Linked DNA regions of Homo sapiens: region 2 is linked to region 1. Evidence: fine-mapped expression QTL. Tissue or cell type: cerebellar hemisphere. Region 1 holds a variant in brackets; the other region holds the start of a gene. All regions are shown on one strand. Distances are from middle to middle.

Region 1 (8,185 bases):
AGCAGTGAAGATGTCCTAATAAATGAAGAAAAGCATACGCCTATCAGTTAATAAGCTTCTTTCTTCCCAAAGTGAAACAGTATGGCCATATGAATGGGGTTTTATTATTAACCCTTTAATTCAGGTTGTATACTTTTTGCCAGTTTATACATTTTACTTTTGCTTTTTGTGATTTAGTGATAAAGGAATGATTGCTATAAAGGCCTAATTATCTCCTTACGCTGAAACTTGTTAAGATCAAAATAAAAAGGTAACATGGAAATGATGGATGGTTCCATTTTTTTCACCCTGTCAACCAACATTGGCTAAATGCTGGCTGTGTATAAGGCATTATAAGGCAGGGGTCCCCAAACCCCAGGCTGTGGCCTATTAGGAACCAGGCGGCTCAGCAGGAGGGGAGCTGTGGGCAAGCGAGCATTGCTGCCTGAGCTTCACCTCCTGTCAGACAGGCAGCGGCATTAGATTCTCATAGGAGTGCGAACCCTGTTGTGAGCCATGCATGCCAGGGATCTAGGTTGCACACTGCTTATGAGAATCTCATGCTGCTGATGAGCTGAGGTGGAAGTTTCATCCTGAAACCACTCCCTACCCTGCTGTCCATGGAAAAATGGTCCTCCATGAAACTGGTCCCTGGTGCCAGAAAGGCTGGGGACCACTGCTGTAAGGGACAGGAAGATGACAGATGAGCTTCCTGGCCTCAGGGGCATTATAGTCTAGCACTGTGCTAACTTAAATACAGTCTGTGCACTAGCATCACTTGGGCGCTTCTAGGAGTTCAGAATTGCAGTCCCTTCCCCAGACCTGAATCACACTCTGCATTTCAATAAGATCTCCTATGATTTTAAGTGCTTAATACAATTTACAAAAAAAAAGAAAAACTGGTTGAGTAGATTAAAAAAAATAATAACCACAGTGATCACTGGAGAGGCTACAGGAAAGGTATCAAGAACAAAGGAAGTCATGATTTTTAAAAAAGTTATTTATTTGGAATTTTATTTTGATCTCAGAATAAGTTTGCCCTTGGTCTTCTTATATTAGAAGAATCTCAAAGTTGATGCTGTTTTAGGATTTCTTGTAATCTGAACTCCTTAGGTTGGGGACATTTTCTTGGTGAAAGTTGGTACAGATGTTGCATTTTTGGTTATGTACTGCTTACCAAGCCTCTGACGTCCATGTTCTGTGTCAGTGGCGGCTTCTTTACCAGCGACATCCTTTGTCCCCTTGCACCTTAGGGGACTGAGAGCAATAATCTGCCATATTGCTTCTGTATCAAGTGATCCCATGGGGACAGTGCAGCTAAGGCTTAGGATGTCAGATCTGTTCGCCCTTTTCAGGCATGAAGACTTTGAAAGGTGGGAGTTGGGCTGGTGGTGATACATATGCATAAATGTTTGTGTTGAGTCTTTCCCTTTGAGGGGAACAACACTATTAATTCCGTTGAAGGCACTGTGGCTTTTAAAGCCAGGGTTTAATGAGAAGTCAGTGCTTTTCCTTCTTTTAAGTTTTAAAGCAGTGGTAGTTGAGGGCAACCTGAAAACGGGGCCGGCGCTGATTAGGTAATTAGCTGCGTTTTGCCTTCCATGACTTCTTTCTAGAGTACAATCACTTGTTTCATTCCTTGGTGGGTGGAAAGGTGGATAAAGGAAGAAGGATTTAATGTACTATGGGGAATGTGTTTGCTGTGGTCCTGGGGGTAATACCGTTTGGTTGTTTTGTTTTTTTAATTATAAATATCTGGCTCAAAGTATTTACTTTTGATATTGAGATAAGCTTTCATTATTCGTGTGTACAAATTACCTCATAGAAAGATTTCCATTTAAGTGTACTCTTAAATTATTCACAGGAGATGACAGTTGGAAAACCTACTGTACGCTGTCCTAAGCTAAAGGTCCCTGTGGGTTGTCTGGGTGATTCATGTGGTAATCTGATGAGAGGCACACTTCACTGCTCCCAGCCCAGGCAGGGCCACTTCAGAACGTGACACCATTGAGAGTAGTCCTCTTCTGTGCTCTATGTGGTTCTCTTTGCACCTTTGTCTCTTTTCACATGCCTTCTGTTTATGCACCTCACTCCCAGCCAAACCAGCCAACCCCAGCGGCGCTTGCAATCCAGCCGTGTTTTCCCATTGATTTCTAACTTCAGGGTGCTGCCTCTCTTGTTCTCTTTGCTAGGTTTGACAGGGCAGGCAAGCTACACATGGAAATGAAAAGTCACAGTGCTCATTTGTGGCCTGTGAGGCCAAAAAACTGATGGCACTTGAAATTAGTTCCTATTTTTGGCTGGCATTTTACACAGATGGCGAGTAGAGCAATTACATGCCTGGTTGCGTTGAAAGGTTTGTCTAATCCTATATCCTGTCCTCTTTAACACTTTTTATTAAGTCTCCAACTTTCATTTATGATAAACTCCTTTTTCAGGATGCCAGTATATGCTGAAACATAAAATATTGTGTCTTATGGCAAGAACCTTCCAAATATATTCAGTCTATTCCTTTGACTCTTGGTAGAAGCATAGATAAATCTTTCCAAATTCATGGGCATTTGACTTAGGAATTCCCAAAGGAGATGATTCTAGAACTTCCTCTAGTAATTTATTCTGGTGCCTCCAGTTTTTATAGTTAAATTTTCCTTAATGTATTATGTAAATCATTTCTGAAATATATAGAGTAATATAGAGTAATTTCTTGTCCCTTTGTCAGCAGTGATGGGTAAGTGACCCTCAAATGTGGAGAACTAAGTATAAAAGATGCAATTGATCATAAACATGGTGTAAAGATCCACCTGGGGGTCATTATGCAGGGTCTGCTCCTCCAGCCATTTCAGCCATTTCAACCCTGGGGCTTCCGTCCCGCTGGTGAAGGAGGGGGGTGCTGGCCAAAGGCAGCTGCGACAAAGCCCTTCCACAGAGGCTCTGCCTTTTATTCCGTGAGCCCTCATTAACTCCCATTAAACATGTAATTTAAACAAGCCTGTTTATGTGATTCCTAAGGCCTGAAGCTCAGCAGTGGCAAAGTGGTAGGAAGGGAGCAGTTATTGGCACATGTGATGACAGCAGAAGTTCGAATTTGACAGCCTGACAGTGAGAGGGGAGGGGG[C/A]AGCCCAGCACGGTAAGGAAGGCAGATAAAATCTGTTCAGCACGTCTGTCTCACATGGGGACAAGGCAGTCTAATGTAGGTTTTCTTGGAGAAAAATAGCTACGTTAAGATGTTTTCATTACTTTGAAGATTATAGCTGAAGTTATTTTTTTTAAAAACCAATTACTGTAAAAGTAGGATTTGCAGGCGGGGAGCGGTGGGTCATGCTTGTAATCCCAGCACTTTGGGAGGCTGAGGCGGGCAGATCACCTGACATCAGGAGTTTGAGATCAGACTGGCCAACATGGCAAAACCCTGTCTCTGCTAAAAATACAAAAATTAGCCAGGCGTGGAGATGCGCGCCTGTAGTTCCAGCTACTTGGGAGGCTGAGGAAAGAGAATCGCTTAAACCCGGGAGGCGAAGGTTGCAATGAGACAAGATCGCGCCACTGCGCTCTGGCCTGAGTGACAGAGTGAGACTCTGCCTCAAAATAAATAAATAAATAAATAAATAAATAAATAAATAAATAAATAAATGTAGGGATTTTTCCACGGCAGGGTTATTGTGAAGGTTAGCAATAATATACAGGAAGCTTTTGGCACAAAGTAGCCTTGGCCCTGCTGCCAGGAGGGGCTGATTTGTATGGCTCTTGGGTTGATAATCCACATAACTAAAATGTGGGGTTCATCGTGGTTGCTAAACAAATATAGCTTGAGTGAATATAGTAGCTTCTTAAGAAGCCCACTTAGGATGTTCTAAGCTAATTAGAGTATATATCTAATATGCATAGTTAAGATCTAATTATTACCTACAAAGCTGATTTAAACCATTATATTCTCTTGATCAACAGGAACTCTGATCCAGTTGTAAAAGTAGTTAATTTATTTGACTTTCTTAGATAAATGAAGATTTAATAATCAAGGCCCAATATAACAGAAATATGGACTAGCCAGTAGACAGAGAATTGGTTATTATACAAACGTATCCCTAGGTCTTATGATTTGTGGGTGCACAGTTTCTGGAAATCTGGCAGACGTGGGCACTTACTTTGACGGAGAGTCATGAGTCTAGTCCCTGAATGGACTAGTTATCATTTTGGCTGCTTGGCAGGAAATGTTCCTTTAGCTTCTCCTGTTAACCCTTTCCTTGAAGTGTACAGGGTTGGGGGCCCTGGAGGAAAACACGCCAGTTACTAATGATACCAATTCACCTTTGCTGCTGTGTGTATGCACATTCCATGGAGGGGGAGTTGAGGAAAGCGCTCAACAGCACTTCTGGTAAATAAAAAATAGCACTTGGACCAGGCACGGTGGCTCATGTCTGTAATCCCAGCACTTTGGGAGGCCGAGGCAGACAGATCACCTGAGGTTGGGAGTTCGAGACCAGCCTGACCAACATGGAGAAACCCCGTCTCTACTAAAAATACAAAATTAGCTGGGTGTGGTGGCATATGCCTGTAATCCTAGCTACTCGGGAGGCTGAGGGAGGAGAATCACTTGAACCCGAGAGGCAGAGGTTGTGATGAGCTGAGATTGCGCCATTGCACTCCAGCCTGGGCAACAAGAGGGAAACTCCGTCTCCAAAAAAAGAAGAACACACAAGGTTTAAGCATATATATAATTTTTTATTTTTATTTATTTCTTTTGAGATAGGGTCTCACTCTATTGCCCAGGCTGGAGTGCAGTGGTGCAACCACAGCTCACTGAAGCCTCGATTTCCTGGGCTCAAGCGATCCTCCCACCTCAGCCTCCTGAGTAGCTGGGACCACAGGCAAGTACCACCATGCCTGACTTAACTTTTTTTCTTTTCTTTTTTTTTTTTTTTGCATTATTTGTAGACACAGAGTTTTGCCATGTTTCCCAGGCCGAGCTTGAACTCCTAAGCTCAAACGATTCATCTACCTTGGCCTCCCAAAGTGCTGGGATTACAGACGTAAGCCACCGTGCCCAGCCAGATATTTTTAAATTAAAAATGCAGCTGCAGGATGTAGAGAGTAGGGAGAAGAGAATTGTGTTCATTGTTTGGGTTCCATGGCTCCTTTGAGTGTGCACAGATGTGTGGCGGGGGTCTCGTGAACCAGTGAAATGGCAAACAGCATTTGGGGCATTAATGGATTTCTCTGGTGAGATGGTCTTTTTTTACTTTTCCTTTTATATTTTGAGACTCTCAAAAAGTGTTTTCTACTCAGAAAGAAGAGAGTGGATGTTTGATGTTAGCCACTGGTGTTATGCACAACTATTTTAACTTTGCCTTTATAATGGTAGTCATCTGGGTGCGGTGGCTCACGCCTGTAATCCCAGCACCTTGGGAGGCCAAGGCAGGCGGATCACAAAGTCAGGGGATCGAGACCATCCTGGCTAACACGGTGAAACCCTGTCTCTACTAAAAATACAAAAACAAAATTAGCCAGGCGTGGTGGCAGGCGCCTGTGGTCCCAGCTACTCGGGAGGCTGAGTCAGGAGAATGGTGTGAACCCGGGAGGCAGAGCTTGCATCATGCCACTGCACTCCAGCCTGGGCGACAGAGTGAGACTCTGTCTCAAAAAAAAGAAAATAAAATAATGGTAGTCAAAGTGGAGATATTATTGCAATTAATAACTGAAACAGGCCCAGAGCACTTGGTGATGTAGCAAGCATCCCTGGTAAGTGTGTGAATCTCTGATCCAAGTGGTGTCGGCTGCAGCCTGGTCCTCATTACTGACTTCTCTGTGTGACATTGGGTATGAACATACTTTCTCTGGGCCTGAGTTTTCCTATCTGAAAATCATGGAGTTTAAACTACGTGATCTCAAGGACTCTTTTAGCTTTTAAACTGAGGCTGCTTTGTAGCTTCTGCCTTAGTAATACCTGTTCTCTGTCATTATTTACATGGTGTAATATGAACTGCCTATCTTAGTAACACTTTGTAGAACTTCTGACTATCTTCTACAAGTGTTCCTGTCCCAGTAAGCTTGTAGAGCCTTCTTCTTAAAATCTCAGTGAATTGGAGTAGATGTATGATGCAAAATTCTGGTTTTAAAATTTTTAATCAGTTTATTTTCTATTGCAGTTTGTTAATTTTAATGTATCTGATCGATGCTGAGTAAAGCAAAGTGCTACAGACCTAGTTCTCTACTCGTTGCTTATTTGCCTTACCCCAAATAACGCTTGGGAGAAGGAGATGCCGACCCAAGTCTCTATGATGGAAAGTTGCAGGGACTTTTAACACCCCTAGGACCGTGGAATTGTAGTAAGTTAGCCTTGGGTGAAATGCTACACCCAAATGCATTGCAAGCTGTGGCTCTAGATAGTTTGCAGAGGAGGCTCAGGGCTAGAGCCTGCAGCTAAGTGCCACTAGCGTAGCTCTCTGATGACTCTTTGTGATAGGATGATCATTCAAGGTTGGAGAGGAATAACCCCCAGGGGCTCCCAGTGATACGGCAGAGGAGGATCCAGCCCCACACTCTGGCTGCTGGTGACAGGCAGGAGTGACAGTAACAGGTACAATGATGGCTGCGTTTCACCTTTGTTGGAAGCTGGGAGTGAATAGCCGGGTCCGTTATATTCTCTTTGGAAATATACTTCCTTAAATGATGGACATTCCTAAATCCATCTAGGAATGTTGGATGTATCTATCTATCTATCTATCTATCTATCTATCTATCTATCTACTGTATTAAGCCCCTTCTCAAAATTGTAGTTTCAGAAGTATGGTTTGATAATTCATAATCAAGTTCTTTTTCTTTATGCCCAGAAGTCTGTATTCTGCACAGACTTGCATACCCCTAGCTGCGCTAAAGTTCAGAAGTTTGAGCTGCCACTGAAGTATTGACTGTGGAGAGGCGGGGTTTTCTGTCTCCAATGAGGTGCCTTTGGTGTCGGGAAAGCCTATCGTCTTTCGCAGGAGTGCTTGCTCTGTAATCCAGGCAATAGCCACGCAGCCGGTTTTATTGTTTGCGGAGTCCTGCGGCTCTGAACGAGCGCTTCACAGACGGGAAGGAGAGCAAGTGGGCGGTTTATGATTCTGCCCTGTGCTGGGGCGAGTGAGCTGAGCTCTTTGATTTCTCCCAAGTAACCGTGTGGGTGAACTGTAAACTGGGTGCCTGGCTTGACCCTGACTCTTTTTCTCTAGGGTGAGGAGTTACTTCACCAGGGCAGCTGGCTTTCTGCCCTGGTGGGGAAAGATGCCCAGGAGAGGAGTAGGATTACAATTTGGGATGCTAGGGACACGCCAAAGAGTCGGGGTGCCTTGGCTTTGTGTTTTGCAAAGTCCTGACAAGTACTCCTGAAATGAACACGCTGCTTCATTTTTTAAATTATACTTTTATTTGTTTATTATTTTTTGGCCGTGGATATCGCGGATCTAGAAACGGAGTCCACAATGTGGCTAGGGTAAAACATTTTTCTTTTCTTTCTTAACCCCTCCTTTTCCCTTTCTTTTTAATTGGGTGACACAGAAGCCGTCTTTTTGGATAATGCGGTGCCTGACTGTCAGCGTTGTCTAAGAGGGAAACAGCAGGCTCGTGGAGAGGACCTGGGCCAACGCAAAAAACCCAGCGTTTTGTTTGCTGGGCTGTTCTTTGTCTCTAGTTGATTTTGAAAAGAAGATGAAAAAGGAAGGCTCTTCAGGTTCCTTCAGACTCCAGCCGAATACAGGTTCTCTCTCACGTGCTGTAAGTTGGATAAATTTCTCCTCCTTGTCCAGGCAGACAAAGAGGCTGTTTCGCAGTGATGGAGAGCTCTCGGTTTGTGGGCAGCAGGTGGAAGTGGATGACGAAAACTGGATATACAGAGCCCAGCCCAGAAAAGGTGACTCGATTTTTAAAAAATTTAAACATTTGAAAAAGTTTGTTATGTAGAATTCTTTGTTTCTATCACTCCCCCTTCATGATTTTTGCCCCCATTAGGAGTTTCTTTTGAAATGTTTGTTTTTGTATTGGAATTCGGCGTCATTTGTTTACATGTCTAAAATAAAAATGCTCTTCCTCAGCTTGAGCTTGTATCTTGTATCATTCAAAGAAAGATAAAGTAGCTGTTATTTGTTCTCGGCAGCCTCCCTCCCTCCATCAGAGCCACATGCTCATGTGACTTGTGAAAAGTTCAATGATAAACCACCCACCACCCTAGCTAGAG
Region 2 (8,185 bases), 76 kb after region 1:
CAAGGGGAAATAAGTAAATAGCATAGGACAAAGGCTTAAGGACTAGATCTTTGAAGCTTGGTTAGACTTTGTTGGAATTCGGAGAAGGAGCCATCATATGCAGGAGAGGAACTAGTGTGTTGCAGTGTCAATGAAGAGGATCAAGAGCTGGGTGGTTGGAAGTATATGATTAAGAAGATCATTAGGAAGGTGAGGAGAAAGAAAAACACCATTAGTAGGAGTCAGAAATTCACCGATGACCACTGAGAATTTTTTAAAAATTGAAATAAAATCTTAGACAATAGAAAAGATAGTATGTGGATATAAATTGGAAGCAGGGGGTATAGAGCAATTACTCGAGGTGTTGGCAGTTTAAGTCAGAGACAAGTAGGAAGACAGCCATGGGGTCTGCTACACTGATTCCCTTGCATGAAAGCATGGCCCTTTATTAAGCAGAAGGCTGCTAAGCTATCTCTTGAGATTTTATTCATTGATTTAACATACACTTACGTATGTTTACATACCAGGTACTGTTCTAAGGAGTTTATCAATAATAACTCTTAGTTTTCATCATGACCTGGTGATATAAACACTGTTGTTATCCCGTTTTACAGATGAGCAAACCAAGGCATGGAGGGGTCACTCCTCTGGTCAGTGGCTGGTAACCTGGGTAGGATGGTTCCAGAGGGGGACTGCTTTTCGCTATTATGCATTAGTGTCAAGTTTTTCATGTCTAGTTCATTAGAACATTTCTTTTTCTTTTTTTGCCCTGTGCAATGGGCCTTGCTTGTAATCCAAACACTTTGGGAAGCTGAGGTGGGAGGATTGCTGGAGGCCAGGAGTTTGAGAACAGCCGGGCAACATAGTACCCTATCTTTATAAAAACTTTTTTTTTTTTTCCGCCACTGTCATATATGGCTGAAGTAGGCATCAGAAGTACCATGGATTTATATCTTTTCTGTTGCACGTATAAATTGAACAATTAAAAAATACAGTTCCAGAAGAATACGGCTCTTCCATCAACCACAGCATTGAGGCATGCAGATTATATGATGAAAACATTTCCCTGTGCTCATGCTCATATCAAGGATGTAAAGTAAGAGCTGGCAATTGATTGGGTAAACTTTCTAATTAATAAGTGCTTTCAAAATACAACTTAATATAGAACGCAAGAAATGTGATAGTTTATTTGGTTTATTTCCTGGAGATCTGGATTTTATGGTGTTATGTGGCAGTGTGGAATAATGCACAGAGGATGAGACATCCTAGGATGCCGGGATGGAAGCCTGCATTCTCCCCCAGGTTTACCACTTACTCGTGTGTAACCAAGTACAGTTGGCTCTCCATATCCACAGGTTCCACTTCCGTGGATTCAAGCAACCATGGAACAAAAATATTTGGGGAAAAAACCACAATAAAAGTAATGCAGCAATAAAAAAAATACATATTTTTAAACCAATACAGTATAACAACTACTTACGTAGCATTTACATTGTATTAGGTACTATAAGTAATGTAGAGATGATTTAAAGTATATGGGAAGATGTGCATAGGTTGCATGCAAATACTACAGTATTTTATATCAGGGACTGGAGCATCCAAGGATTTTTGTATCCAAGGGGCATCCTGGAATGGATACAGAGGAACAACTGCGGCCACTTTATATCACACTTAATATTGAGTGAGAAAGGAAATTACCCCATGCAAGATTCTTCCTACAGTTCATTTTCTGAGAGGAAAGAGCACTTCTCTAGTCCTGGGGGATGGAAATGTGTCTCACAGCCTGAGGAATCTCTCTCTCTCTCTTTAAAATGAGAGCCAGTGAGATTCATTACACAGTTTTGTTTTCTTGCCATTGCCTCCTTCAAGGTTTTGCTCAAATCTCGACTTTTCACGAGGACCACCCTGACTCCTACGATGCTGCAGCCTGGCCACCCTCAAACCCCCTTTTATGTTGCTTAACTTTTTTATTTTGTCTGTTGCACTCAACTCCTTCTAATATACCACAAAATTGTAGTTCAGTGTCAAATAATTTAAGCTCCATGAGGGCAGGGATCTCACCTATTTTGTCCAATGATGTATCCCAATGAAATGAAAGAGTAGCAGTTAGCATCGGTGCCTGGTATTTATCTTTCTGATGAACGAATCTATATTCAGATGCCATTGTTGAGCACATGGAAAGCTACATGCTATGGAGGGTTGAGCATAATCAGAGTTTCTTGAAAGAACAATTTCTGTTTTCACTGGACATTTGCATGGTGACACTTAACCTCAAACACTTGTGGATTGTGCATATGAGTGTTTTTGCCCACAACTCTCCTTGTGTCTAATGCAATGAGCAGAGCGAGGTCACTCTTGCAGATAAATTTGTTTTCCAAAGGGGAACTTTGCCCGCTAATTTAAGGCAGCCACATAATCTGACTTACAGGCTCAGTCGTTTCTCATTTGCCATCTGGCAATTTAATTACTTTAAAATAAAGCTATATATAAAATGAAATAACACAAATTGGAAATCTGTGATAATATGTATGATAAGATGGTAACGTTTCTATGTGTTCTTTTGTTTTGTTGTTGTTGAAAAAATAAAGGGCATAAAAAGACCTGAGAAGGAATCATTTCAAAGCTTTCCCCTATGTGTTCTTTTGTTTTGTTGTTGTTGAAAAAATAAAGGGCATAAAAAGACCTGAGAAGGAATCATTTCAAAGCTTTCCCTAGACAGAGCCCCTTATATAAATTTTATTCTTTGACTAAGAGCCTTTGTTATAAACTAAATGTTTTGAATTAGTGGATTATTACATTTTTCCATTGAGTTATAAGTCTGGCCCAAAGCTATGAAATAAGAGGTTGTCTAAATTGTTTCAAAAGTGTTTGGCCATGAAGTGGAACTGGGCTGAGATGTGAGGAAGATTCTTTTCCTTTTTCCGTTGTCATAGTATTTCCGGATCTATATTCTCCTCTTTTTTCCTATCCCTTTACCCCTGGAATATGTTTTTTCAGTGCCTTCTTATACTCTGTTTCTGATTTCTCTGTCTCTACTTGTGCTTCCCTAGTTCTCTGTGGTTAATTGCCAATGGGCAAAAGAACCAGCACTCTGGATGGTAGATTCAAGTTAAAGAGTAACTCAGATAATGTTTGTTTGAGACAACATTGAGGGAAGGGCGATTATGGAATTCTGAAAACCAGGAGCCTAAGTGACAATTACATATAAAATAAAGATTAAAATGATTAGGGTACTTTATCTAATTTATCATTTGGAGTGGGGAAGTTGTATTTTTTTTGGTGGATTTTTTTTTTTCTTGATTGTTGTGGCAGCTAGATGCAAATAAGATCATGCTTTGGAACACACAATGCTGATTCTCAATCACTGGCAAAGAAGGGTGAGAAGACAGAGCATCCTAATTTGCACAAAAATGCAACCAAGTCATCATTTGCAGCTCCTTGGAGATTCTATTCTAAAGTTTTACTGCTTGTACAAGTTCCTTTGGTATCGGAGGCAGAGCCTGGGGCGTGGTTGGGAAACAATAGTTTGGTTTTTTTCCCCCCTAAATCAGTTCAAATCCCATATACCCTGAATTAACTGGAATTGCTGTCAGACTTGGCAGCTCCTGTAAAAGATCTGGGTGTTCATAGGGGCCTAATGAAATGGGGAACACATTTGTTTCATCTTGACTTCCGTAGAGGAAAGTCTGCACTATTTTTGTGGGCTCAGAGAGGAGGAACTTCTGATCTGTTGGAGAGAAAACTGAATGAATGGGCACTGAGGCAGAAAGCCTGATGTGGCTGTCATGCAAATAAGAACCGTGATTGGCTTTCTCTTTCTTTCAGCGCACGATGTCACTGGCTGCTCTCAGCCTTAAAGATTAGGTTTCAGTAGGAGTTTTTCAGGTTCAAGGACTGTTAATGGTTTGTAACTGCCTGACAATAAACTCAACCTCAGTTACATCAGCCTGGGCAGATGTCTAAGGATATGAGACCGGGGGAAGAAAAAGTTAGAATCTGTAGCAGAAGGACGAAGCTTGCCACCTGCCTACTGGGCTGAGCTTTTAATGTGATTTACATTTCTAAGCTCTATGTAGGTGCCCTGGAAATGGTGGTCTTCATTAATGCAAAGATTAAGTCTTTAATTAAACTTTTTAAGAAGAAAAGTAAGTAGTTCCTTTTCTCTCTACTACCTATTGTGTGCATATGTTTCCATATGTGTATATGTCCCTGTGTGTCTGTGTGTGTGTGTGTGTGTGTGTGTCCATGTGTGTGTTTTAGGTCCTTCGTTCTTTTGTGTGAAGAAATTAGAGTGTGAAACAGCGTAATAGGCATGAGTTAAACTCTACTCTATACCAGGTTGTTTAAATACCTCAGACTTTTGTAACTCTAGGACAGTATTATGTGATCTTAGCATGTCTTATTTATTTATGATTGGGGTTTTAAGTGAATTCACTTCTTCTGTGCTTTTCAAAAGAAGTCCTTTGAAGAGGGGGGAAATTCTTGTACTTAATTTATGTTTCCCTTGATATCAAGTGTATGATTTTTTGATTCTTTGGATAAATATGCAGCTGAGGTAAGGGAGCCTCTGTGTAATGTATCACATATTTCTGGTGGAGATAATCCCCTGAAACTCCCTGGCACTCTTTGTTGTGTATTTAAGAGCTCGAGCACAAACTGTCTAGACTGATCAGTGATTGTTGTAAGGTACAGAACTTTTGTGATGTGGCTTTATTGTGTACTTACCATTGACTTACATTTCTTTAATGTAGGTGCTTCTTCATTCTCTTGAAAATAATAATTTTTATAACTACTTGGCTTTGTTTTTACATAGTCGGTGGTTTATTTTATTTTAGTTTAGTTTAGTGTTTGGACCAGTGACTTATACTGGATAAATGAACATGGGTAGGGGCATTGGTAAGAGGAGCTTTGGAGAAAGCTACAAAGAGCAGCACGGTGGGCTGATTTTCTGCAGCTCCTTGCTAAAGGCTGCCTTTGGATGAACAGATTAAAAGTGGCCCTGGCGAGAGTGAGGAACACGAGGGGAAGAGACTTTTTCATAGGAGCCAGTTGGTAGCTGTGCAGTGGGGCCGATGGTGCGATTGATGGTGCAGACACGAATGCCATTACTTGGATTTGATTTGAAATTGTCGAATAGGAAAAGTTTCCATTTTCAATAGTTTCTAACTCTGAAGTATGGTAACTCAGTCTTTAAAATAAATGGACATCAGCACAAAACACTGTGATGAACTCTGGCTACACTTTGGGGGGACATATGGTGAGTTTGGCCCAATGCTAGATTCTTCTGAAACACAAATGAGGGTTAAGTCAGGTCTTTGTGGATTTTGTGTATTAAGATTGATAGTTGTATGCACCATGCAAAACATTTGCTCAACAAGAGTTTACATGAAATACTAGGTGCCAAATTCACATACTGCTTTTGTCAAATACTAAGCAGAAAGCACAATGGACATTTCTGTTTTTAACTTGATATCTAGTTCTCAATGTTTATTTTCTCATTTAGCAACTTACGGAGAAGGTGGGGTCCTTTTGAAAATGAGTTATCCTGTTCAGATTCATAAGATTGTAAAATTTAGTAGCTGCAGAAAAGATGGTATGTGAGATGAGCGCTAGCATGTGGCCCAGGTTTACAAGAGACAGTGACAGTTCAAAGTTTGGGGCCTCGTTAGAATAATTTTTACTGTTCCTGCCACAACCATGTTTTACCTGAGTTATTTCTTGAGCTAAGTACTTTATGTATATTGGTTCATTTGATCTTTAGAGTAGCCCTAATAACTGTGCTATAGAGTATGTTTAGTGAATTTTAGATGTGCTCAAATGGATTTAATAGTTTATGCGTGTGTTCTCATGTTACTTTGAGAATTCATTTTATGGTCTAGTTTCCAGGTACATGTTATGTTGGGGACATGGATACGCCCAGTGTGAACTCTATAGCATAGATCAGAGTCAGGAAGACTTGCTCCTCACTCACAATTCAAGTATCTGCTGGCTTTACAGGGGTTAGACTTGCTACCTCAAGCAAATGCCTCAGCACAAGGACTTTCTCCAGTACCTTTCCAGTCTCTCTTATGCCTGGGTTACATGGCAGGTATATAGAAAGTATTAAAACATTGTTGATGAATTTGTTTTGGTGCTGTCGGCCTCATTTTGGGCTCCACTGATGCCCCAACTTAGCTCGTGTTGTCAGGAAAAATGAACTAGAGAGGTCTCAAGCCTCCGAGGATTTAAAGAAAAATTATTGTAGAGATTTATCTTACTCTCAGGATTTTACCTGTTATTTTGTCCTCTAATGTCTTGGTCTCTTCTGTGCTGGGAAAATTTAGTTGAACTGGATTGTGTTGGGAAGAGTCAATTGCATTGTAATTTTAAAAATGTTTAATATAAAAGGGTTTCATGAAAGCAAGAAATGCAGAGAGAATTTTGTAACACAAATGGGTCTCCACATGTATTAGCTATGTCATTTACATGTAAATTGAATGTTTACGCTTAATTTTTTAAAAATGTAATTGAGTTTATAACAGTGATGCTCTTTAAATAATGCTGTAGAGGGAGAATATTTGTTATAAACCTCCTGGTAGGAAATTCATTTCTATCAGGACAGTCTAACATTTACTGTTGCGATGGCATTATACAGTTGAGTAACTGCTATTTGTTGTGTGTGTGCGAGGGGGGTTAAGTAGGAATTGGAGGTCTCTATCAATTCTGTCAGATGTTTTCAAACATTGGAGTAAAGGGAGGACCTAAAATGCTGGGAAGCAGTTAACTGAGCAAATGATTCTATGAAAACATTGTTTGGAGGGTGGACACTTTCAGCTTTTCTTTTATAAGTAAAACACTGTGGGCGAGACCCCTGGAATCTAAGATTAAAACTAATTTAGGATTTGCTCCATTGCTCCCTTGCTGGCCCTTACCCGTGGATGTGTTAGACATGGAAACACATCATGATGTAATGAACTCGTAGCCAATGAAGTTGACACCTGAATGTATTCTATCTTTTTTTCTATAGCGGTTTCCAACCTAGATGAGGAAAGCCGATGGACAGTCCACTACACTGCCCCGTGGCACCAGCAGGAGAATGTGTTCCTTCCCACCACAAGACCCCCCTGTGTTGAGGACCTGCACCGCCAAGCCAAGCTCAACCTCAAATCAGTACTGAGGGGTAAGATGGCATCCTCTGTGAGCTTATTTTCTTGGGTTACTGGCTGCTGAGAGCATAAATTTGATATCTATTTATAAAACCAGCTCTACTTTTATTGAATGTATAGTATGCTACGTCTTTATACGATATCATAAATACAACCTAATACATGCTGATATGGTTTGGCTGTGTCCCCACCCAAATCTCATCTTGAATTGTAGCTCCCATAATTCCCCTGTGTTGTAGGAGGGACCCAGTGGGAGATAATTGAATCATGGGGCCAATTTCCCCCATACTGTTCTCATGATAGTGAATGAGTCTCATGAAATCTGATGGTTTTATAAGGGGACACCCCTTTTGCTTGGCTGTCAATTCTCTCTTGTCTGCCGCCATATAAGACGTGCCTTTCACCTTCTGCCATGATTGTGCGGCCTCCCCAGCCATGTGGAACTATGAGTCCATTAAACCTCTTTTTCTTTATAAATTTCCCAGTCTTGGGTATATCTTTTTCAGCAGTGTGAAAATGGGATAATACACATGCCTAAGATGTTCTGGTCTCTGCAGAAACTTGCCTATTTGCAGATATGCAAATCTGTTTCCAGGAGCCCACACCTTCTTAGAAACACTTTAGCATGTTTAAACCGCCAGTGTTAATTTGATCCAAATAAACCACTGCTGACATGGGCAGTTTTGCCACTGTCTTTTTAAAACCATTGTAAGTATTCAAAACCAATTTGTTTTTTTGAACACACTTGTTTGTTCTGTTTAGTTCAAGCTGGCTGGAAAAAGGACCTATGTATAGACTTTGAAGACATGCTAAATGGTTTGATTTATCAGAACTGGGGTATCACCCAACTGGGCTCCTCTGAGCCTAGGTTCTGCCAGCAGATGAGCAAGGTATACTTGGTCAAGTAGAAAATATAGGAAGAATGTATTCCTATATCTAGTTTAAAATTCTCATTTTTACTTCAGTTCATTGTGGTTTGTTTTTCTTATTGAGATGGAGTCTCACTCTGTCACCCAGGCTGGAGTGCAGTGGTGTGATCTCGGCTCACTGCAACCTCCACC

The links. PIP is the estimated chance that this variant, and not a neighbour inherited with it, causes the effect.
Region 2: NHSL1 starts here. The variant in region 1 is fine-mapped to the expression of NHSL1 in cerebellar hemisphere (GTEx, PIP above 0.99).

Annotation. Positions count from the first base shown.
Region 1 is chr6:138,571,386-138,579,570 of GRCh38, reverse strand. It overlaps a transcript of NHSL1 not described here. Among named protein-coding and RNA genes, the nearest start is that of NHSL1, 76 kb to the right of the region's middle. RefSeq lists enhancers at 2,389-2,889, 6,668-7,424. The variant C/A (reference allele first, on the strand shown) is at 3,095.
Region 2 is chr6:138,495,172-138,503,356 of GRCh38, reverse strand. NHSL1 (NHS like 1) reads left to right here and starts at 3,863. Exons shown (of 8, transcript NM_001144060.2): 1 at 3,863-4,124; 2 at 6,986-7,138. The coding sequence starts at 4,067.